Regions from separate parts of the Homo sapiens genome. Here region 1 is linked to region 2. The links come from fine-mapping of genetic effects on gene expression. A gene starts in region 2. The other region holds a variant in brackets. All regions are shown on one strand. Distances are from middle to middle.

Region 1 (11,924 bases), 100 kb after region 2:
TGGCTTTCAAAAGAGACCCCCAAAGACAGTGGCTCAACCAATATAGGCTTATTTCTCTCTCACATAACAACCCACAAGAACACAGACCCACAAACATAGGAAGGTGGTTCTGCTACATAAAATCATCCAGAGAGCCTTGTTCCATCTTTCTAGGTGCCCTGTCATCTCCTCAAATGTTGCTCTTATTCACTGAAGCAAGCTGACTCCCCAATACCATGTACATACTGAACCCAGAAGAGGGGAGAAAAGAAGGAAGGATTGTGCATAGGAGTTCCTTTTGAAGAAGTGACATGGAGGTTAGACACATCACTTCTGCTCACATTTCCCTGATGAGAATTTAGTCACATGGCCATGCCTGGCCACAAGGAAGGTTGGAAAATTTAGTCTCTAAAATTAGAGCAATTATTTCCCCTTTTCCTTTTAGGAACAGAGCCTCCTGTTTTCACCAAACCTAACAATGATCAGCCACACTGACTCTGATTGAGTTAAGTAGAAAAGAAGTTTATTAAAAGATGACCAAGGAGCTCACAGAAACACCAGGAAATTTTGAGAAGGTTCAGAAAACAGGTAGAAGAAGAGAGACTCTAGGTATCTAGAACCCAAGTACAAATCATGCCACAAGAACATGAGCAATGGGCACTGCTGCTAATAGCACTAGACACTGGACATCAGAGCTTGCACTTGCCACCAGCAGAGGAAACCAGTGAATGTTACTTTATAGGGCAAAGGGGACTTTGCACATGTAATCTTGGAAGAGTATCCCGGATTACTTAGGGCTCAGTGTAACCACAAGGGTCCTTATAAGAGGGATGCAGGCGATCAGAGGGAGAAGTAGGAGAGGTGATGACCGAAGCAGAGATTGAAGTGATGCAGCCACAGGCCAAGGAATTCTGGCAGTCACTAGAAGCTGAAAAGGGCAGGCCCCAGCTCTCCTGAAGCTCTCAGAGGAAGCAATCCTGTCAGTTCCTTGATTTTAGCACTAATGTCAGACTTCTGACCTCCAGAATTGTAAGATAATAAATTTGTGTTCCTCACCACAATCAAGCTAATTAACATTTCCATCACCTCACATAGTTACCATTCTTTTTTATTTTTTATTTTTATTTCTTGGTATGGTAAAGACACTTGGGATCTACCCTCTTAGCAAATTACAGATATACAATACAACATGATCATTGTGTTGGTTTCAGCTTCAAAGGGTCAGGTAACCTGTTACAGCAGCAATAGAAAAATGAACACAGCAGCTTTTGCCTGGAGACTCTCCATTGGCCAAGCCAAGATTGTCTCAGAATTCTGCTGCACTCTGAGGCTCTTCCCACCATTCTTTGTTTCTCATTATCCTTTTACAGTTGTTAGACCTGTCTCCCAATCTAATGGCTCTCTCCAACTCCCACTCCCTTTCTCTTTATCCTCCAGAGCCATTTTCCCTAATGAATTTCTTTCCCTAATAAATCTCGAATCCCATCTTGGCATCTGCTTCTTGGATGTTCTCAACTAAATAATGCTACCAATCCTACTCTCTCTTGTGCCCCAGGAAACTGGAGGCTTTAGCTGCCTTCTACCCCACCACCCCACTCCTCAGAATAGACTCTCTACCACTCCTCTTCATCGGTTCACTAGCTTCCAATGCAAAGTCCTGGGGTGGTGCCTGACTGGCCAAGCCTAGGTCACATGCCCCCTCTCCAGGGCAGGAGGCTGGAAAAACAAGTCTCTGGCCTATTTGACCTCCATAGTGGAGGTCTCTAACCCTCATGGAGACTCATACAGTGAGGACATCCCTAAACATAAAAAGTGGGTTCATGTGCTACCAGGTACCCCCAATGTCTATGACAATATCCCTCCCTCAAATATTGTGAATCCCATCCTGTGTGAACAAGAAACATGTAGTCTTCTTTTGCAAGAACTTCTGAAGATTTGTCAGGGAATGCTTACACCAGCTCCGTGCTTCCTCTTGTCATCTCCCAACCTTATCTCTCTGTTAATCGGTTGCCCCCTGTGGACACCAGCTCCTCTCTTTATTCCAACATGGCTGACACCAGCCATAGAGAGTGACAAAACTTTACTGAGGGTTTGAGAATAACATGAGGAGTCATACCACATGCCTTAGTCCATTTTGCGTTGTTATCAAGAAATGCCTGAGGCTGGGTAACTTACAGAGAAAAAAGATTTATTTGGCTTACTATTCTGATGGGCTGGAAGGTTCAGGATTAGGCATCTGCCATTAGGACCTTGGGCTGCTTCCACTCACGACACGAGAGGAAGGAAGCTAGTGTATGCAGAGATCATATGGAAAGGAAGCAAAAGAGAGGTGAGGGTGCCGGGCTCTTTGTAACAACCAGCTGGATCGGGAACTAATGAGATGAGAACTCACTCACCCCTGAGGGAGAGTATTAATCAGTTCATATGGGATCTTCCTCCATGACCCAAACCCCTCTCATAAAGTCCCACCTCCAACACTGGGATCAAATTTCAACATGAAGTTTTTTGGGGTACAAACATCCAAACCACAGCACCACCAAAAGGGAGATAGAAAATTCTGTATCACTGCTCCTAAAGCAGATTGGTCATAACCCCATCGAAGGAATCCCTTGGAATTAAACTCTGCTCTTAAGCTCCTGCCTGCCACTGTGGTGCTAAAGTCCATTTCTCCTCCTCTCCATGAGCCCCCTGTTTTATCACCACTCTGCCCATCTCCACTCTTCCCTGGCCTGCTTCTTTCCTGAGGAAGCCATAAAATATATTAGAGAAAAAAAAAATCTCTGATGAGCAGCTTAGCTTTGCTCCATCTTAATCTGTTTCTTCCAGAATAGAAGCATGGCCCTATCTTTGTTTAACTAAAGAGCTTATATCGGTGTTTTTCAAATCAAAAGGATAGTCTCCCTGAAAATGAATTCTGCCTCAATCTCTAGAGTCAGAGGTGCAAATTCTAGGTAGATTTAAAAATAGCAGTGTCCCTAGGATGGTTAATTTCAGGTGCCAACTTGACTGGATTAAGGAATACTTAGAGAACTAGTAAAGCATTCTTTCTGGGTGTGTCTGTGAGATGGTTTCCAGAGGAGACTGGAGTGTGTGTCAGTAAACTGAGTGGGGAAGACCTGTCCTCAATGTGGGGGCATCATCCAAATGGCTGGGGGCACAGATAAGAACAAAAAAGGCAACAACAGCACATACACAAAAAGAGATTTTTTTTTTTCTCTCTCTCTCTCCTGGAGCAGGGACACTCTTCTCCTCCTGCGGTTGGACTCCAGGCTCTATGACCTTCAAACTCCAGGACTTACACCAGTTGCCCCTGGGCACTCAGGACTTCTGCTTCAGACTGACAGTTGCAGGACAGTGCAGCATTTTATTTTAAAGATACCCCACAACGTAGGTGGCCAGTCCTGCTGCAGGTGCGGTTTCAAGCCTTTGGAGTTTGACCTTCTAGTCCAAGGTCATTACAGCTGCAGGCAGAGGCTCCCGCGGGGAAAAGAGCATTTCCTGGGACGCTGGAACTAAATGAATGGCCCACTCTCCAGTTCAGCCCTTGCCTCCTTCCCGACACATAAAGTTCAAGAGCCACGGTCCTGAGTGCATAGGAACAGCCCCATCACCCTTCTCCCTCTGGGCAAGCTAGGAGCAGCGGTGCGAGGCTCCATTTCTTCTTCTCTGCCTCCTGGACCTCAGCCACCTCTGCTCAGGCACAGGCCAGCTGCCCAGGCGTCCTCATCTGGCGACCAGCTCTGACCGCAGCCCTGGTCTGCTCTCGGGGTCGGGCCCACACCCCTCTTCTTCCTCCTCTTCCTCCCAAGGCCTGGGCTCGGGTCCCTCTTCTCACCTTTCCCTTTCTTGCGTTGCAACCGTAACTTGGGAAAACCCTTCTTGATCTTCCTCTCTCACCTCCTTTCAAACACATGCTTGCAGGCTTTTTCCCGATCTCATCCTTAGGGCAGATACGCTCCCTTGATTCTGAGGTCTTTGAACTTGCTGTGAAGCCACACTACCTGCGTCCCAGGGTCTCCAGCTTGCAGATGGACTGTGGTGGGACTTCTCAGTCACCAAGGTCGTGTGAGCCAATTCCCCTAATACATCCCCTCTCATCTATCTATATCAGTAGAGATACCAATATCAGTACAGATATAGCTCCTATTGGTTCTGTCTCCCCAGACAGCCCTCACAAACACGGTTCCTGAACCCACCTCACACTGCTCCACCCCACACCCAGACAAACGCACACATAGAGGTAGGCAGGTAAATACATAGATCAATAGATTTATGTAAACTGTGAGCATCACGCCTGAAGAGAACTCCCTATTTCCACACCGTGTTGCCACAGCACTCCTACTTCCCACATCTGCCTCCAAATTGGCATTCTTCCTTCCATCTCTGCTCATAGGTCAGGCGACCCACCATGAGGTCACACCCCTTGCCGAGGACCACAGTTTCACAGACACTGTGCCTTCCAGCCACCCCGCTGTCCTGCGGCAGCCATGGGAATGTGGTGTTTCAGCAGTCCTCGCGGTGTTCCTCATGCTGACCCTGCTGAGTTCCAGCCATCTCACCGGATCCAGTGGCTTGGGAGTTTGGGTTCATAAGGATTTGAGCTCTGCTAACATCCCTGACAGGAAAGAAGCAGAGTAGCTTTTAGGGACAAACCATTCCAAGGAGAAGGATCACTGCACAAGGACCCTCTCACTCTCTCCCCAGAATCTCCCCTCTCTCTACAGTGCTCTAAATTCTGTCCTCATCACCCCTGCAGTGTCTCTTCCCCATTTCTCCTCTACCATAGACATAGACAAAGCATCACCCAAAAAGGGAGAGGGAAATATGACTGGGAATTCTTTAGAGGTGAGTGGAGTTAAGAACCTGAGCTGGATTCTTCTCTTTTACAAAGCAAAACTAACTAAATACATAAAAATTTAAATTTATTTTCCTTTCTTCCTTGGTCCAGTGAAGACTGGACTCTTCAAAGTGGACTTTGGTAAAAACAAAAGAGAAAGTTAAAAAAATTAAATTCTAAAGGCTAAATTTACACTATAGAGATTTTTAATAACTGAATTCTGGTAACAAGTTGGTTGACTCAAGCTAAGATTCTTTTCCTTCCACTTCTGCTTTCTTATTGTTGTTTTTGGTTTTATTTTTGCATTTGTGCTGTCACACACAGGATTTCTCCTCCTTTCATTTATTTCCACCAGCAGACCTGCACCAATACAAAAATGTGCCCTGTTAATAATAATAGCTGCTGTTTATTGATTATTTACCACATCCAGGTACTTCATGTAAGAATGCTATACTGTAGCTAATTAAGATAATCACAGAAAATTATCAATAGGTAACTTCGGTTACTATTTTCTACATGCTAGCTTTTATTCTCACTTCATCCTTACCATCATGCTAGGAGGATAGGTATTATTATCACCATTTTAGAGATGAGAAAAGTGAAGTAAATACTATTAATTTCATTTAGAAGATAAGTAGATGAGGCTTAATCACACAGTTATTAAGTGGCAAAGACCGGATTTGAATCAAGATATCTGATTTTTAAAATTCACCTTGTTTCAAAGCATTTTACTTCACCTAAGAAGTTAATACACCTCACAACCAGATAACTCCTTCTTTTCAATTAGACTGTGTCTGTATCTGGGATCAGTTGCGAAGCAGAAGTATGACGTGACTAAGGCCACCGCTGGGTTAGGATACCCCCATCCAAGGTCAGGTTCTTAACTTCACTTAGCTCTGAAGACTTACGATTAGTTTTTCCTCTCCCATTTTTTGGGTAGCCCTTTCTCTTCTTTTCTGTGGAAAAATTTGTAACTTACCAGAACAGTTCACAATATGACAACATTGTAGTGGTGACATCACAGAGACAGAAGGAGGAAGAATGGCAACCCTTGGACTCCTGGGGATG[T/C]GGGAGCTCCTTGACCACATGTGGTACCTCTCTTTCCTGATCCCAGATTGAGAGCTGTACTAGCCTGGCATGCAGACAGCAGCTTTAGAATCAGATCTGCCTTCTGGCGGCTTCCCACCTAGGAGCCATGGGACCTTTGTGAAGTCACCAATTGTGCTGTGGATGCTTCATTTGTGAAGGAGAACAGGACTGCCTTGTAAGTTGCAATATGCGTTAGAAATAGCAAATAAACAGTACTTAACTCATAGGAGGCCTGTGATAAATGGGAGCTTTTATCATAGACTGACTTTCCTGCTCCTGTTTTGCTTCTTCTTTATGTTTAGGTGAAATTACGGATGGTGCTACTAAAACATATCAATAATTTGAATTTCACTTTTGTGGATGCTTTAAACATCATAGTCATTAGAAGGTGGATCTGGCTGATTGTACTTTAAGTTTTCAGTTTGAGCTGGAGCTTTGTATTATAACAGGAGGGTACTGGACAAGGTGAGTTGCTGATAGCCTCCCCCCACCTGCCAACAGACCTATCATTAGATGGAATGTAATGGACTTTGGCCAGTTGTTCTCCACCCCAGCTCTGACTTAGCGGCTCTGGCAAGAATGGATATATGAGCCTAAATACAGAGCTTGTTGTGCTACTTTTGGCTTTCCTTGTCATTATTTCTTCCTCTAAATTCAACAAATCATTACTTCCTCTTTTATTATGTTTTAGTATGAGTGTTTTAATACCACAGATATTCAAAATAAGCCTGTGGGAGACACTGGGTTATGAGGTGATCATACATTGTTCCTTTAATTTTCAGAACAACACAATAAGATAGGGACCCTGTCCCAGAGATGACTACATTGAAGTTCAGAGAGTTTAAGTAACTTGCCCAAAGTCACATCGCTAGTGAATAGCAAAACGAGGATTCAAGCCTAGGCCTGCCTATTTTCAAAGTTTATGGAAGGAATTAAAACATTTCTTAGTCTAATTTTCTCGGAGTTTTGTTCTGCTTTGTTTTGTTTTGTTTGGCTTACTTTCTTCATCAGCCTAATACCTGCTTCAAGTCTAAGTGAAGCTTTCACCTCTGCCTGGAAGTCTTCCCTGTCCCTGTAGGCTGTCAGGTGGCCTTCTCCCAGCCCCCATAGCATCCAGCATAGAAGCTGATCACAGCACTTACCACCCAGTGAAAAGTGTGGGCACAGTCCTGTCGGCCCCTTCCTCCTAGACTGTGCACCCTTGGGCAGCATGCTTTGCTTCCACAACACTTGCTACTTAGCAGGGGCTCAGGGCAAATGTGTGGACTTGAGCTGCCAAATTGAAGCCATAGGTCAATATTAGAACTAAACACTAGTGCTAAAGTGAAAACTTTAAGATGCACATAGACCAGTAATCCCCAAATGTGTTTGCTGAGGAGTGTGTGTGTGTGTGTGTGTGTGTGTGTGTGTGTGTGTGAAGAGACTGTGTACCACTGGCTTTTTCTCTCCTGTCATACTTTCACTCCTGATGGACTAGGCCTATGGAGTGTTCATTTTTCTCCCTGAACATTAGACATCTCTCTGCTGCCTTTAAATAAAATTCCTCATTTTACCTCTCCTCTTCTTTTCTTTATTTCCTTTGCTTCAGACAAGATATGAGCCCTTAACTCACCATAATTAACCTCACAATGGGCTACTGTTTGTTTCATATTGGAGACCACAAGATGGATCAGATAATAGTCCAATATTTTTGGACTACAATTTCCAATATTATTCCAATATTGCTGGAATATTATTCCAGTATCATCTACTATTTTCCCGATATTATTATTGGAAAATAATAGCATAGCTATTATATAGAATATTTACCCTGTGCCAGGGACTGTTTCAAGCACTTTACTTACATTAACTCATTTAATCTTCACAACAACTTTATGAGATTCATACTATTAGTATCAACATTTTACAGATGAGGAAACTGAGGTACAGATGGGAAACTTGCTCAAGTTCACACAGCAATTAAGTGATCAAGTCCAAGAGCAAAACCAGGCAGGCTGGCTCCAGAGCTCACGATAGTCCACCACTGCTTTCCACCATCACTACGGAATCAAGTCCATGAGGATACTCACCTTATGTCAGTTGCCTAAGTTGGAAATTATAGAATCTTCAAATTGGAAGGGACGTTATCATCCAAGATTTCAACTTTCTACTCACTGCAAAATCCCTTCTGGAACTTCCCAGATTGATGAATTTTCATCAGCTCTGCTTGAGTACTCCCAGTGACTTGGAAAAAAAACACTGTAATATGGATATGAAATATAAACTGTTCATGGATAAATTATTGCATAATAAAAACATGCCTAATGGCTACACTCCCCTAATATGTTCATTTGGTAATTATTTTTTATTTGCAAACTTGTTTTGATAGAACTGTTTCTTTTAAAAAGTTTAATTTGTCTTGAGATACATTTTCCTTTTATATCTTCTTATTAATGGGCTTATTTTCAAAGAGGAAGGTACAGCAAAGGTAAAAGAAAAAACTCATTTTCTCATGTTGTTTTGGGGTAAAAAATAAAGGCTAACAGTGGGTGAGTGATCTTTTTAATATTTTTAGTTAATTTCCCACACATACTTTAAAAAGTTACTATGGTACTGTTTTCTCCTACTATTAAAAATCTGTTTGAAATGAACTACTGGAAAAGTTAGGACATCATAAATCATCTTAAATAGAATAATTTATTTGATGTTTAATCCCTAATTAAGATGAAAATATCAATTGCAGCTGTTCGTTAGGTATGTTCTTAGTTTGTGTTTGGGCCACAGCAGGGGAAGAAAACCCAGAATTTCATAATTTTAAAGAGATTTCTAAATGCTCTGTGTTACACAAAACTTGCAAGTATGGCATTGTGGGAGACAACAGCAGTGTCATAGCTGACATTTGGGTTCTGGATTCAGACTGCCTGGGTTTAAAGCCCTTCAGTCCCCATCTTGATACAATGTTAAAAACATTCAAAGTTTTTAGCACAATGCCTAGCACTTTAGATGCCCAGTGAAATGCTGATATTATTTTTCCTTGTCCATTGAGATCTGTTTTGAAGTATAGGCAAAGCTTGGGACTGAGAATAAAGAATCAGCATCAAAGTCTTATAGTTCATCGTTTTAAAACTGTTTTCTCCAATTTATCCAAAAATAAAATTGAGGGAGTAAGATAGCCCGTGGTTAACATATCAAAGCACCAATAGACAGATTAGAGACTAAGAAGGTACATGAGCACTACAGGCTAAGATGTGGCCAGAACGCATGTCAGGTAAGAAGGGATACCCAGAAATCCTATCTTGGAGGCATCAGGTGAGCATGAGCAAAAGGATATCCCAGGCCAAAGGAACCTTGAATTAAGCAAGCTCTTTACAAGTCCTTCCTTGTGAGGAAGGAACGGCCCTGGGCCAGGCTTCCAAGGACTTCCATTTTAGTCCTGGGTCTGCCTTCTGTCACATTTCAGGCAGGCCATTTAAATTCTCTGAGCCTCAGTAACATTTTTTTTCCTGCCTACCTTAGGGTTATTGAGATACTGTGTGGGAAAGGCCATTGAAACAAAGTTTCAGAGCACTATCTATAAAACACCACATTTTATCACTAATAATCCCATCTTCTAATGTAATTACAGACTTCCCAGGATTTAGCAACCAGGGCCTGGAAGGCAGACAAAGGTAACTGGCCCCATGTGATAAAAACAGGTACAAACTTTCTTTTCTTACCTCACAAGCCTAGCTTAGTGCTGGACACTCAGCAAATGCTAACAAAGTGCCACGCATTGGTTTGAAAGGGTTCACTTCAACCTTGCCTTCTTCAGGAAGCACTTACAGAGAGCACTTTTCAGTGGGTAACAATGTGACGTCAAATGCTCAGTTTAAAACCTCCTTCCAAATAAAAGGAAATTCATCCTAGAAATGGCTAGAATGACAGAATGAAAACAGAGCAGTATCTACCTGGGCTTTAGTGCCAGGAAGTGACAGTCATTGGCTATGTGTTCAATTACATGGCCGAAGTTAATAGGTAATCAAATATTATGCAATAATAGATTAGTTGCCTTTCCTTGTTGCTAATTATCTAAAATATCTCTATATTGCATATTTAAACATAAAAATTTCCCTAAGGTGAATGATACACTATGCCATTTTTAGTGATTAAATGTGGCATTTTCTGCATCTTAATGAAACCATTATTTTTGTTCAGCTGAGTGATTTTATTAATTAAAAGAATGTCAGGAGAGTGGCAGCATGGTCATAGAGTTCTCAGAGAGTCGTAGCATTATAGAGCCATAAAGGACCTGACCAAACCCAGCCAGGGACTCTCAGTTTACCTGTAATTCTCCACCTGGAAGTCAAAAAGCTGGGTTCTGATATCATCAGTACTATGTGACCCCGGGCAAGTCATTCCAACTTTCTTTGACTGAGTTTATTCTTCAGACAAGGGATCTGTAATGCCATGATACTTTAAATTAAGCTTTTCATGTTGACATATGTTTATATATTGTTACACTAATAATGATGTGTCCCAACAAAGTATGGTTTTCTTTCTCTTTCTGACAACAAACACAGGGACTAGCTGTATTTGAATTCTCTGTTATTGGGAAAAAACATGGCTTTTCTTAATAGGCTGTAAATAACCTGAGGGTGCAGTTTGGGGTTCATAATTTTGTGTCCCCCATGGTGCCTTTAACATACTACTAGAAAGAAATAGAATTTCATTGTTGCGTGTTTCAATGTATTTCGGACCAAAGCATCCTGCTCTGAAACATCATTAAGGGAAAAAAATCCTAGCATATTGTGGGCCTCCAATGAAATGAATGTTAATTGTGTTGCCCAATACCAATTTATTAACGTTTATGAGCATACAACTGTGCGTGCACAAACACAGTTCATATATAGTTCTTGAAAAAAGCATTTGGGGTTTTCTACCACATGATGCTTTCAGTCAGTACCTCCTACCATTAATTTGTGTTCAGAGCAGTAGTTCCCAAAGCTACCCCTTCAGCAACATGTATGTTGACATGGATGTTGAAATGGATGATGTAAATACAGCCATTCAGAATAATCTGGAATCCTATTTTATGATTTGGAATGCCCAGAATGTCCAAGACATGACATACTTACAATTTCTCAGAAAAGTCACACCTGAAAAAGGTAAACACTCAACATAGACACTTAGACTTTCCAGGCATCTTAGCTACAAGACCAATGGTGTCAGTATCTTGAGTTCTGTGTTCTATAGGAGCTTTTTTTTTTTTTTTTTGAGATGGAGTTTTGCTCTGTTGCCCAGGCTGGAGTGCAGTGGCAAGATCTCGGCTCACTGCAACCTCTGCCTCTTGGGTTCAAGCGATTCTTCTGCCTCAGCCTCCCGAGTAGCTGGGACTACAGGTGCTCACCACCATGCCAAGCTAATTTTTGTATTTTTAGTAGAGATGGGGTTTCACCATGCTGGCCAGGTTGGTCTCAAACTCCTGGCCTTGTGATCCACCCACCTCGGCCTCCAAAGTGCTGGGATTACAGGAATGAGCCACCATGCCGGGCCCACAGGTCCACCCACTACTCCAGGAGTGTGTCGCTTCCTGCACTGGTGACAACACAGGGAGCCCATGATGTGCAAGTTTCACAACACATGTGGTTCGTTTTCCTCCCCTAATGACTCAAGAAGAGAGTTTTAGAATTCAGGCTGAGTCTCAGTAATTCAATTGTAGAAAAAGCAGGCAAAGCTGTAGCTCTGTCTTAATTAGTTTCATATGTGAATGTATTAATTGTTTCATTAGGAAATGTATTAGGTAAATTGAATGTGAATGTGGTGGATAAGGACACAAAAGAAATCCCTTGAAGGTTCATGATTGTTCCATGTGTAGGCCCGGGAGCATCTTCATTAAGGCAGGCAGTTTTGGGCCACCCGATCATGACCATGGATCTACGTGCTGGAACTTGAAAGTATGTCCACGCTCAAGATTTCTGTCTCTTCTAAAGCAAGAAAGGACTGGTTTTGCATGCCCTGCCTATGCACATCTTTATGAAAATGTAACCTTTTCACTCACTTT
Region 2 (11,924 bases):
GGCCTCTCCTTTTCCCCAGGGGATGAACTGTGATTAGACTAAAACCAGTGTTGGTGATTCTGTTCCCCTTCACCAGATAGAATTCTGGCCAATGAGGCCAGATCTGCTGAGAGAACAGCTAATGTCTAAGGATCAATCTTTTCACGTAAGGCCTTTATTTCAGCTGTCATCCCAGTATGAGGCCTAAAACCATGGCACTCATCCTGAAACTGTGCGATGTCAAAGGAATGAAATCCCAACTCGCTGATGATGGCGGAGCAGGAAAATCGAAAAATCTTAGGATCTAGATGATGTCATTGAATGGCTTCACCCAAAGCAGAAACTGTGCCTCCACACTTAAGAGAGAAAATTAAGTGTCTTTATTCATTAAGTTTCTGTTAATCAGTTTTTCTGATACTTGGAACTAAAACAATCTTGATGCATACAGTGAGCAAAGACATATGAATAAAGATATCCATCAAAACCATTTATGAAAAAAATTTAAAAAGTAAATACCCATAAATAAGAAACTGGTTAAATCAATCATGCGACCTCTAGACAATGGACTGTCATGAAATCATTAAAAACAAGCTCTGTGGCTGGGCACGGTGGCTCACGCCTGTAACCCCAGCACTTTGGGAGGCTGAGGCGGGTGGATCACGAGGTTAGAAGATTGAGACCACCCTGGCTAACACAGTGAAACCCCATCTGTACTAAAAATACAAAACAAAAAAATTAGCCAGGTGTGGTGGTGGGTGCCTGTAGTCCCAGCTACTGGGGAGGCTGAGGCAGGAGAATGGCATGACCCAGAAGGTGGATCTTACAGTGAGCCAAGATTGCGCCACTGCGCTCCAACCTGGGTGACAGAGTGAGACTCTGTCTTAAAAAAACAAACAAAAAAACAAACAAAAAAACAAAATTCTGTATCCAATAAAATATATCAGTCTGATTGTTAGGTAAAAAATATAAACATTAAACAGACATTTAATTTGTGTCTGCTTAAGATTATATTAATTTGAGATCTCACTCACATATGCTTAAATGCATGGAAAACTTCTGAAAAGAGGTGCAAGAAACTTAACAAAGGTTACCTCTGGGGAATCAAATTGAGTGTTCAGAGCCAGAGAAGGAAAAGTACTTTTAATTTTCTACCTTTTGATAGTATTCTAACATTTTTAAAGCATGTAATATCTTCAAGCTATTTAAAATTTTTTTTAAAAAAGCCACTCATGTTCAAGGGAATGAGTGGCTAAAATCAGGGTCAGACCTTTATAAGTTTGCTAAATGCAGCTTGGTGTCTAGGATTGTTTTATTTTCCACACATTTGAACTTTTCTTAATAAACATTTGAACAAATATTTAGAACTATTGAACACCAAGCACTATGCTAGGAGTTGAGTATGTATCTATGAGCAGGATAACATGGTCCTTACCTTCAAGGAGCTCACAGATCCCGGCAAGAAAACAGTATACTTGCAACGTAAGTCAGTAATAACTGACTCTCATTGAATCCATGAGGCACTCTGTCAAGTCATTTATTACATATGCTGTCTTGGTTCCAGTTACAATCCAATTGTGTTTCCCTCAGGATACCTTCAGAATTTAGGTATCACAATATTTTTAGTTATTTCTGCAGATTTTTCTCACTGACATAGTGGTTTTTTGGTTTGGGGTTTGTTTGTTTGTTTGAGACAGAGTCTCACTTTGTCACTGTCACCCAGGCTGGAGTGCAGTGGGGCTATCTCAGTTCACTGCAACCTCTGCCTCCTAGGCTCAAGCAATCCTCCCACCTCAGCCTCCAGTGTAGCTGGGAACACAGGGTACAAGCCACCATGCCTGGCTAATTTCTGTATTTTTTTTGTAGGGACAGGGTTTTGCCATGTTGCCCAGTCTGGTCTCAAACTCCTGAGCTCAAGTGATCCACTCACCTTGGCCTCCCAAAGTGCTGGGATTACAGGCATGAGCCACCATGCCTGGCTGACATAGTGTTTTGATTCTTACCGTTGTTATTCCCCTAGCCACAGAACACTAGGATACTGACATACCAATCCCTTCATGCTGGGAGGGGCTGGATGCACTCTAGGGTGGATGGAGCCCCCAAAGAAGTGGCCTTCCTTGGGGAGCCTCTTGCATTTGCCCCGGTGTGCTAAATACACAGACTCACTTTCTGTGTCATGATGTGACAAAGTTTGGGAAGCTCTATTAGAATAGACTTAATTCAGTATATTGGGGAGTATATTGATGTTGAACTCATATACTATCCACCCATGTTTTTTCACACTTCTCAAGAGAGCGAAATGAATGGGTAAAACAATATTTATAGAGTAAATTTCATTTTTGTTTATCACCTTTAGTTCCTATCAAAAGAATCAGCAAAAATCAAGAGGGGTTTAGGGCAAAAGTTGCTGATGTGTTGGAGCTCACCTTGGGTGCATAGTTCTCTGCCTACACTTCGTGGCATCTGAAGTATCTGTAGCTTCCTTCTCTGCTGTCCCTCACTGCCACTTCCAAGCTTGGTCCAAGGTAAGCTGTGGACTCTGAAGAGTGTGTGTGAGTTTGGGGAGTGGGGGCGGGGCATGGAGGTAGAAACACCCCTGGTGGGGGCAACCCGAAACTGGTAAGTTCCCTGCCCCTGCATCTTCCTGAGAGATGATTCAGAGGTGTTTCACATGGCTTCTCAGAGGGTCCCCACTGGAATGCACCTCGGTTGCCCACAGCAGAGACCTGCTCAGTTGCACGCCCTTGACTGGCATCTCCTCTTGCCCAGCTCCCTTTCCCTCTTCCTCACCTGTGTTTCCTGGGATGATCTCTCACATAAACCACCTGCGCTCACGTTCTTTCCCTGCTTTTATAGGCACCTAAACTAAAAGAACAGGAAATGATTTTTTCATCCCCCAATATTTTAATTTAAAAAATGTCAAATTGTATATATTTAAAGTATACAACATGATGTTTTGATATACTTACACATAGTGAAATGGTTACTATAGTCAAGCAAATTAAAATATCCATCATCTCACCAAAGTGTCTGTTGATGGATGAATTTTAGTTTTAAATAATGAGAAAAAAGTGTATTTCACACACATAGATGATACATGAAGGTTGTTCAGAGTAACTATATTTGTGTCCGTAATAAGATACATTTATATCTTATGGTAAGGACAAAATAATTATCTATAATAATATTTGTGTCTTCTTATACAGATCACAATTAATACAGAGATTAGTTATCATGTGGTTTTTATGACACAAATATTTTATGCTTATTTTTAACCTGATAATTGCTTCTTAAGATTAAGCCAGGCTGGGCATGGTAGCTTGTGCCTGTAATCCCAGCACTTTTGGAGGCTGAATCAGGAGGTTCACTTGAGCCCAGGAGCTCGAGACCAGACTGGGCAACATACAAAGACCCTGTCTCTAAAAAAAATACAAAAAATTAGCAGGGCACAGTGGCATGTGCCTGTAGTCCCAGCTTCTTGGGAGCCTGAGGTGGGAGGATCACTTAAGCCCAGGAGTTTCAGACCAGCCAGGGCAACACAGTGAGACTCCATCTCTACAAAAAACAAAAAAAAGGGATTAAGCCAAATTTAGTCCAGGAAGCTTCTGACTGGGACAAACACAAACTGGAAGGTCCATGGGGGCTCTGGGGCTCCTCGGAGTCTCTCTAAGCCTCTCTGGTACATACCTGGAATCTTGTCACCTGGTGCATAGGAAGTCCTGTGGGTGTGGATGGTGATGTGGTGGCTGTCCTGGTGCTGAGGCTGGGCTTGGATGTGCTTGGGCTGCATGTCATCACAGGCCACCGTGCTGGCACCATGGGAAAAGGCAGATGAGCAGGAAGCCAGGCAGAGGGTGGTACAAGCCCAGCCCACGAGGGCAGCCTGCATCCTCATCCTGCCCTCTCCTGTATCATGACAAACAGCAGCTTCAGTCCAGACGTTATTTAGGAAAACGACATAAAGTCTTCTCGGGATGTGACTAACCTGAACCCCACACTGCCTCTGTACCTGAGATGCTTTTAGTGCAGCCTCCCAGGATTGCTAATGTTCAAGGCCAAGATCAAAAGGAAATGCCAGGCTATAGGAAGTGTTTCATTTCCAAACACCTTTTTAAAAACTTCTGTTCTTGTAATTTTCTCATAAGACCAGACTGCTTTTTTTGTTGTTGTTCAAAAGAGAGGCTTTAATTATTGAGTCAAAGAAATAAAACCAGAAAATGTTTGTATCCTAGCGTGAGCTCCTTGCAAGCTGACTGGTACCCAAAGGCGGTGTGGCCTCTGATACATTATCTGAAGTAGACACTCAATACACCACCATGGTCAGGCAGCATGGCATGGGATGGCTTGGCTGAGCATCTTATCTCTGTTGCAATTGAAAATTACCAAGTTAAGTGCTACAAAACATCTACCAACTATCAATTATTTAGAAGTGACTGTTAAGCTGGCAATGCTTTGATATCTCTTTGCCCTTTCTTTGGCTGTTTTTAGCTATTTCACTACTTTTAGTAAAGAAGATGAGCAGAGAAAGAAATACTCAATTTATTCTATAACTTCTTAAACATACTGATAACAATTTTGGCTCAGGAATAGAATACAATGATTGAATAAAATAGCATTTATAGAGTAAATTTTATTTTTGTTTACTACCTCTAATTCCCATCAAGAGGAAGAATTAAAATTTGGCAATGTAAAAGAAGATGACAAAAATAAAATGAGAGATAGCAAACAAGGCAGATGAAAATCTGCCTACATAAATATTTAGGATTATCACAGGCATTTTTTAACAGTTCTGTTTTAGGCCAGGTGCGGTGGCTCACGCCTGTAATCCTAGCACTTTGGGAGGCCGAGGCAGGTGGATTGCGTGAGCACAGGAGTTCAAGACCAGCCTGGGCAATACGGTGAAACCCTGTCTTTACTAAAATACAAAAAATTAGCTGGGTGTGGTGGCATGTGCCTATAGTCCCAGCTACTCGGGAGGCTGAGGCAGGAGAATTGCTTGAACCTGGGAGACCAAGGTTGCAGTGAGCTGAGATCATGCCATTGCACTCCAGCCTGGGCAAAAGAGCGAGACTCTATCTCAAAAAAAAAAAAAAAAGTTCTGTTTTTTTTTTTATAGTCCTGCACACAGGCATTTTAGAAGTTTGGCTAATTTTTTGACCTAAGGAACAATGCAAGGCAAAAAAAAAAAAAAAAAAATGCCCTCCCCTGTAGTCAGCTGGTTTTAAAAGGTGAAAATAAAATCCTGAAAATGTAGTAAAACTAGCTATCAGAACAATAGACTAAGGAAATAATCCATAAACCAAATAATCAAGTGTCCTCCACTCCCATTGTCTCTTCACACAACACCACCTTTTACATTCACAAGCTAAAAGAAGACAGGAATATGATCTATACCTCAAATTTCTTAGACATAAGAGTCCTTCAGACAATGCCTTTCTTTTCTAAGTTTGTTTTCTATGAAGCACCAAAGTCACACATCTCCATACTACAAGGAACCATGGCTACAGCTTCTCAGACACATTAGGAGATAATGAAGATGAACTGTGTAAAAGCACATTCTCAGTCAAGGGGGCTCAGGGTTCTTCTCATTTTCTTTCATAAGGGCCACATACAAAATGCCCCTTGAATGCTGGGCATGGTGGTGCGCACCTATAGTTCCAGTTGCTCAGGAGGCTGAGGCAGGAGGATCACTTGAATCCAGGAGGTCGAGGCTGCAGTGAGTTATGATCACATCACTACACTCCAGCCTGGGTACAGAGCAAGACCCTGTCTCTTAAAAGAAAAGAAAGAAATGAAATGAAAATGCTCCTCAAGTCCTTGCTGATGGCAAGTGGTCTTTCCAAAGGCAGATCAGACACAGTTGCCTACAAGGGAAGGGGAGTGAGTGCCTGGACTCACAGACTACGGCCACAGCCCCACCTCCCACCCTCCTGCCTTAGGTTTCACTGTGTCTTCTTTCCCACTAGCATCTTGTCTACCTGAACCCTGAAAACTATCCACTTGGAGCTGAGCATGGTGGCTCACACCCGTAATCCCAGCACTTTGGGAGGCCGAGGCAGGAAGATCACTTGAAGCCAGAAGTTCAAAACCAGCCTGCGCATCACAGGGAGACCTTGTCTCTACAAAAATAAATAAATAAAAACATCCACTTACCTAGGAACACAGTTTTCTTCAGGCTTGATAGAATGGCTTCCTCCCGCAGAGTTGCAAACACATCCCTTAAACATAAGTATTTTCTTCTCCTTTCAGTTTTTCCTCTAATGGGGAGAATAACAGCTGCTACCACTAATCCTCAGCATCTCCAGGAACTGTTCCTCAGTGTCCAAATCCAACCTAAATCGTATTAGCACACACATACACACACACACACACACACACACACACACACGGTTTACAGTCACATCATTGTTCAAGCCTGCGTGAAGAACTAGAAAGAACCGGAACTGGTTTTGCACAGGACTGGCACTGACATCCTTGGCAGAAGCTGGATGCCTCCATCTTGATCTCCCTGCAAAGGGGAGAATGTTTGAATGAAATGCATCTCAGCATTCTTGGCTTCTTGAGTCAGTGTGGACTGAAGTTACTCTTGGTGAAATAGAATTGATACGTTAGCCCAAGAGCAACGTTTGGTACAAAAAAATAACACGTGGCATAGGCACCTCCCGTATCAATTGCACTAAAGCTGGAGTTCACATTTTCATTCATCTAAGAATCTGCTGAGACACCTGATAATACCAGAGAGCCTATAGATCAGTGTTCCTCAATGTGTGGTCCCTAGAGTGCAACACCAGCATCACCTAGAAGCTTGCAACATTAACAATGAAGAAAAAGAGAGAGGAATGGATTTGGGAGATCAGGAGATCAGGTGGAGGTAGGATTTGGTGGCTGTTTGAATGCAAGGCGTCCAAGAGAGAATCCTAGGATTGATAGTCCTGGGTGATGTGGAGTAGGGGGCTGCAGAGAGAGCAATGTTCTGACTGTTAGGCCTTGTCTCCACTCAGAAAAAACTAAAGCTATGAGTGACTGAATAGGCAAGGCACTGGCTTAGGGACCAGGTTGCTAAGCCTTTTGTTGCAAGTGTAAATGAGACTATCTATCCTATAAACACCAAGGGAAATTGGGCTTCCTTGGCCTAGGATACCAGTATTCCCCACACACAGAACAAAAGCAAACAAATTCAATTTGGTTTCTCTAAGCTTCTATCCCACTAGGATTGGAGGCAATCTCAATCTCCCACTGAGTCATGAGAAATTCTGGGAGGTCTAGAAAATTAGGATACATTCCTTCCATGGCTGCTGTTATGATAGTTTTCAGAGCTCATGTGGTCACTTGAAGACTGTTAGTTGGAAGGCTTCTATGCCAAAAAGGGGCTCAGGTCTTCAGCAAGGCTGTGGCCTGGGTTCTTCCCACCCCCTCCACTGGGTCCTGACACAGATCTCTGCCCCTAGCAGGAGAGTGGCTAACCTCTTCTCCACTCCACTCTGCTCCTATCCCAGTCTTAGAGACAAAAGTGTCCCTCCTCTCCTTTTTTTTTTTACTCTCACCCCATTACCCTGGGCCACCTGGCATAATCCACCTACCACAGGTAGAGTGGTAATCTCCAACACCTCAGCTTTGCCCCTGAAACACAAACTCCCTGGATATACGGATTCTCAAAAGGCCCAACTACCAATTAGAATGAGGAGAGGAGTGCAAAGGTAGAGAGAGCGCACCTGCATGGCTCAATAAATAATCCTGCCATTTGCTCATGTAATATTTCTTGTTGAAAATCAGGAGGACACCATATCTTAGACATGGCCTTATCCTGCCTGCCACACCCACAGCCTCTGCTGAGCCGGCAGCGCATCTTATGCCACTCTCCCGACAAAGCTGATTGTACCAGGGGGGCATTCATCACAGGCGAGGGCCCTGCTGACTCAGGGCTGAGACAGAAACTCTCCCTGGGAATCTGACCAAGAACACATACAAGGCTACTCTATACGAGTGCTGGCCAATAGAAATAGAATGCAAGCCACATATGTAATTTAAAATTTTCTAGGCCGGACGCAGGGGCTCACGCCTGTAATCCCAGCACTTTGGGAGGCCAAGACAGGCAGATCACCTGAGGTCAGGAGTCCAAGACCAGCCTGGCCAACATGTTGAAACCCCATCTCTACCAAAAAATACAAAAATTAGCCAGGGATGGTGGCACGTGCCTGTAATTCCAGCTACTCTGGAGGCTAAGGCAGGAAAATTGCTTGAACCTGGGAGGTGGAGGTTGCAGTGAGCTGAGATCTTGCCATTGCACTCCAGCCTGGGCGACAGAGTGAGACCCTGTCTCAAAAACAAACAAACAAAAAAATTGGACTCTCCTTATTTTTAAAAAACGTGAAAAGGAACAAAAGACATTTGTTTTAATAATAAATTTAGTCAATTCAATATATTGAAAACATTTCACATGCAATCAGCATATAAAATATCATTAGTGAGATATTTTGCATTCTTTTTTTCACAGTAAGTCTTTGATATCCAGTGGTATTTTACACTTACAGCACGTCTCAATTCAGACTAGACACATCTCAAGTGCTCCGGAGCCACATGTGGTAAGCTGCTACCATATTTATCAGCGCAGGTCTGTACAAAGGAAGGTGGTTGAGCCATAGGTCATGGTGTGGGGTCAGACCTGAGGCCGTATTGTACCACGTGCAGGATGTGTAAGAGGCATTGAGGGGACAGGATAGTAATTAAACATAACAGCATATTTATATAATGCCTGCACAGTACCACACACTATTCTAGTCAGCTAGTTGGCAAATTACCTCATCGATACAGCAACACAATGAGGTCTGCACTATTGTTATCTCATTTTATGGATAAGGAAACTGAGTCACAGTGTTTCTGTAACTTGCCAAAAGTTCCCACAGCATTCAGGAAGTGATAGATAAGGTTTTTCCCTACAGTTTTGCTATAGAATAGCTTTGTAACATAATCTACAAGATGAAGATAACTACCAGTTCCTGTACCTGCATCCCGAAGTGCTGGTGAAGTTTCAGTGAGGTAATAAATAATAAGGAGTTGGTACTTAGTATGGGGTTTGAGACAAAGGAAGGGCTCTGTACCTGTTTTGTCTGGGGAAAGAGAAAGCTGGCTGAGCCACAGAGAGGGTTGGTGCCCACCACGGAGAGGAGGCGGTGAGAGAGTGTGGCTCTGAGCCAGATCATGCGCTAAGCCCGAAGCCCGAGAGACAGCAGTGAGTTGGCCTCCAATCCCCACCCACATGAAGGAGACCCAGCTGTGTGCACCCGGAAAGCAAGAAAATACTGTGTTTTGTTTGTTTGTTGCTTTTATTTTGGGAATCTGCTTGAGGTCATTTCACACTAGCAATTTGGCTGGACTTGATATATTAACATGATTGAATCTGTTACCTTAACATCCCCTGGCCCTGAGTAGAACAGTTAATATTAACGTCATACCAAGGGAAAGTCTTGGGGTGGGTTTTATGGTTATAAATCAGATACTCTGTGTCCTTCGGTAAATCACTTAACTTCTCTGGGTTGCCTCAGGTATAAAATAAAAAGGTTTGAATTAAATAATCTCTTCTATTTCTTCCAGCAAGAAAATGATACACATTTTCAAGGTTTTATTTTAGTTATAAAGGCATAAGAATGAGCTACTCTTAAAACAGCTTGAGATGGCATGCATTAAAGTCTGGCACGTAATTATAACCTGCGTTGACACCATCCCACACTCACTCCTGGTTTAAGAGTCTGCCTTGGAAAAGTTTGCAAATGAAGGAGGAACCTGTTGAGCTCACTATTCTAGTCCTGTTTCCTGCTCCTTCACTCCAGCAGACAAGTGGACATTTTCTTCATTTTCAAAGATCTTGGAGATGAAGATAATGGCTTTTGTAACTCATGAACAGTCTTTCCTATCCAAATGTTTTTCCTACCTTGGTAATGACTTCCTGCTGAGATTGACTGGTGTTTTTACATAGAAATCTGCTATTCCAGTATCATCATTGTGATTAGCATTTTAATGTTTAGATAGATTTTTTAAAACTATCTGAAGATTTCTGGAGTGCTGGGATAATCTATGTAAGAGAAAAATACAATTCTCTTTAAACTCTACATGAAAGTGGGAAGTCAATGGTCATTCATGTACGTTTAGCAGGTCTGCTGACTTTTGCATCATCCTCCATGCTACTGTGCACTTTCTGCCATTTAAAAAAAAAAAGTTGAGTGCCTTTTTTTTTTCTTTTGAGACAAGGTCTCACTCTGTCATCCAGGCTGGAGTGCAATGGTGCAATCACAGCTCACTGCAGCCTCAACTCCCAGGCTCAGGTGATCCTCCAGCCTCAGCCTCCTGAGTAGCTGGGAATATAGGCATGTGCCACCACTCCTGGCTAATTTCTGTATTTTTTGTAGAGATAGAGTTTCACCATATTGCTTAGGCTAGTCTCAAACTCCTGTTTGGGCTCAAGCAATCCTCCTGCTTCTGCCTCCCGAAATCTTGGGATTACAGGTGTGAGCCACTGTGCCCAGCCTAGTGCTTTTATTCTACCCAATAATCCTCTCCTTCATTATCCCTGTTAAAGAACAGTACAGTCAAACAGGATTTCTAAGTTAATTAATATTTGAATTCTTACTATTTGTAAAGCAACTTGCAAGAGAGTCTGCTGATAAAGTATCGGCAGGATCTTCTCCCTAGGAACTGACATTTTACTTGGGGTGAGGTAGCAAGGTAAAGAAGAAAGAGCTCTGAAGTCAGACAGCAAACTAGTTACATGACCTTGGAAAGTTAATGCTGGTGAGCCTCAGTTTTACCATCTGCAAAATGGGGAGACTATTAGATTTCTCACAAAGGTGTTGTAAGGATTAGATGCTCTCTAGCAGTGATGCAGAGCAGTAAACAAGCTATGATCAGAAGAGAGATAAAAGCCAGGTTACCAGAGTCTGGGATGCCAGAATATTTCAAGTAGAATCAGGAAAATATGGTTGATTTTAGAGGTTAGGTGGAGTTTAGACAGATGAGATGGGTAAAAGGATATTCAAAGCAGGAGAGAGAGTTTGAACAAAGGTGTGAACACTAGCTGTGTTTGTAGTAATTATCCAGACATAAAATGAGGTGCATTTGACGCAGGATAGTGGGGACTGAGATGTTGAGAGAGTAAATGGAAGTAAGACTTGGAGACCTTTTGTATGGAGGCAAAGTGGGGATCAAAAATTGGCATTTAGGGAGTCTGGACAAGTACTATAATTTATGTCCAAAAGAGGGGAGTTGGTGGCATTCAATTTTAGTTACACTGGAAATGTACTCTGAGCATTTATTCATTCCTTCAGCCAACCTTTATTAAATGCCTACTAAGTGCAGGTCATGGGCTCTGGGCAGGGGATATAAAGATGAATAACACATAGTCTTCACTCCTCCAGGGCTGGTAAAGCAGAGCAATGCATCAGCAGATAATTGCAAAACAACGAGATTCATGATTAGAGAAATATGATCATGTATCGTTATAGCAGGACAGAAAAAGCATTACCTGGAGTTGATTAAGAGGCTCTTTTTCCCTTTTCAAAGCCTAAACATTCATATCTTGTGACTGCATGCAAAAATGAACCTCAAAGATTGGCATTGAATAATTCTGGGGACTTCTATTATACGTATATGAATGTTTTATCGTATCTTTTTAGGATCCTACACCATGTATACCCTTTATCCTTGTGTAGGCACTTGATCCCATACACCGCCCTGGATTGCAACTGATCAGCTTTAAGTGTGCCATCTTTCCTACTGACCTAGCTCTAAATCCCTGTAGGGTAGGAATTGTCTTAAAATTGCCGAGCTTGGATGCGTAGCACAGCACTATGAACATCGTAAGTTATCTGTGAAATAATGTAGCATAGACCTACGCTAAAGAAGACAAAGGAACATGGATCTCTCTGTTCAGAACTCTATGTGTTCCACTTATTTTA

The links. PIP is the estimated chance that this variant, and not a neighbour inherited with it, causes the effect.
Region 1: its variant is fine-mapped to the expression of REELD1 in whole blood (INTERVAL, PIP 0.91).

The regions. Positions count from the first base shown.
Region 1 is chr4:146,105,757-146,117,680 of GRCh38, reverse strand. It overlaps LINC01095 (long intergenic non-protein coding RNA 1095), which reads left to right. Exons shown (of 6, transcript NR_038331.1): 2 at 3,216-3,389; 3 at 3,925-4,039; 4 at 5,931-6,080; 5 at 6,208-6,370; 6 at 7,815-8,226. LOC105377469 (a long non-coding RNA gene) reads right to left here. Exons shown (of 3, transcript XR_939294.1): 1 at 11,922-11,924; 2 at 9,601-9,796; 3 at 8,056-8,143. Among named protein-coding and RNA genes, the nearest start is that of LINC01095, 10 kb to the left of the region's middle. RefSeq lists an enhancer at 11,391-11,440. The variant T/C (reference allele first, on the strand shown) is at 5,885.
Region 2 is chr4:146,208,900-146,220,823 of GRCh38, reverse strand. REELD1 (reeler domain containing 1) reads right to left here and starts at 6,286. Exons shown (of 8, transcript NM_001354631.1): 1 at 6,130-6,286; 2 at 5,626-5,748; 3 at 3,664-3,882. The coding sequence starts at 3,871.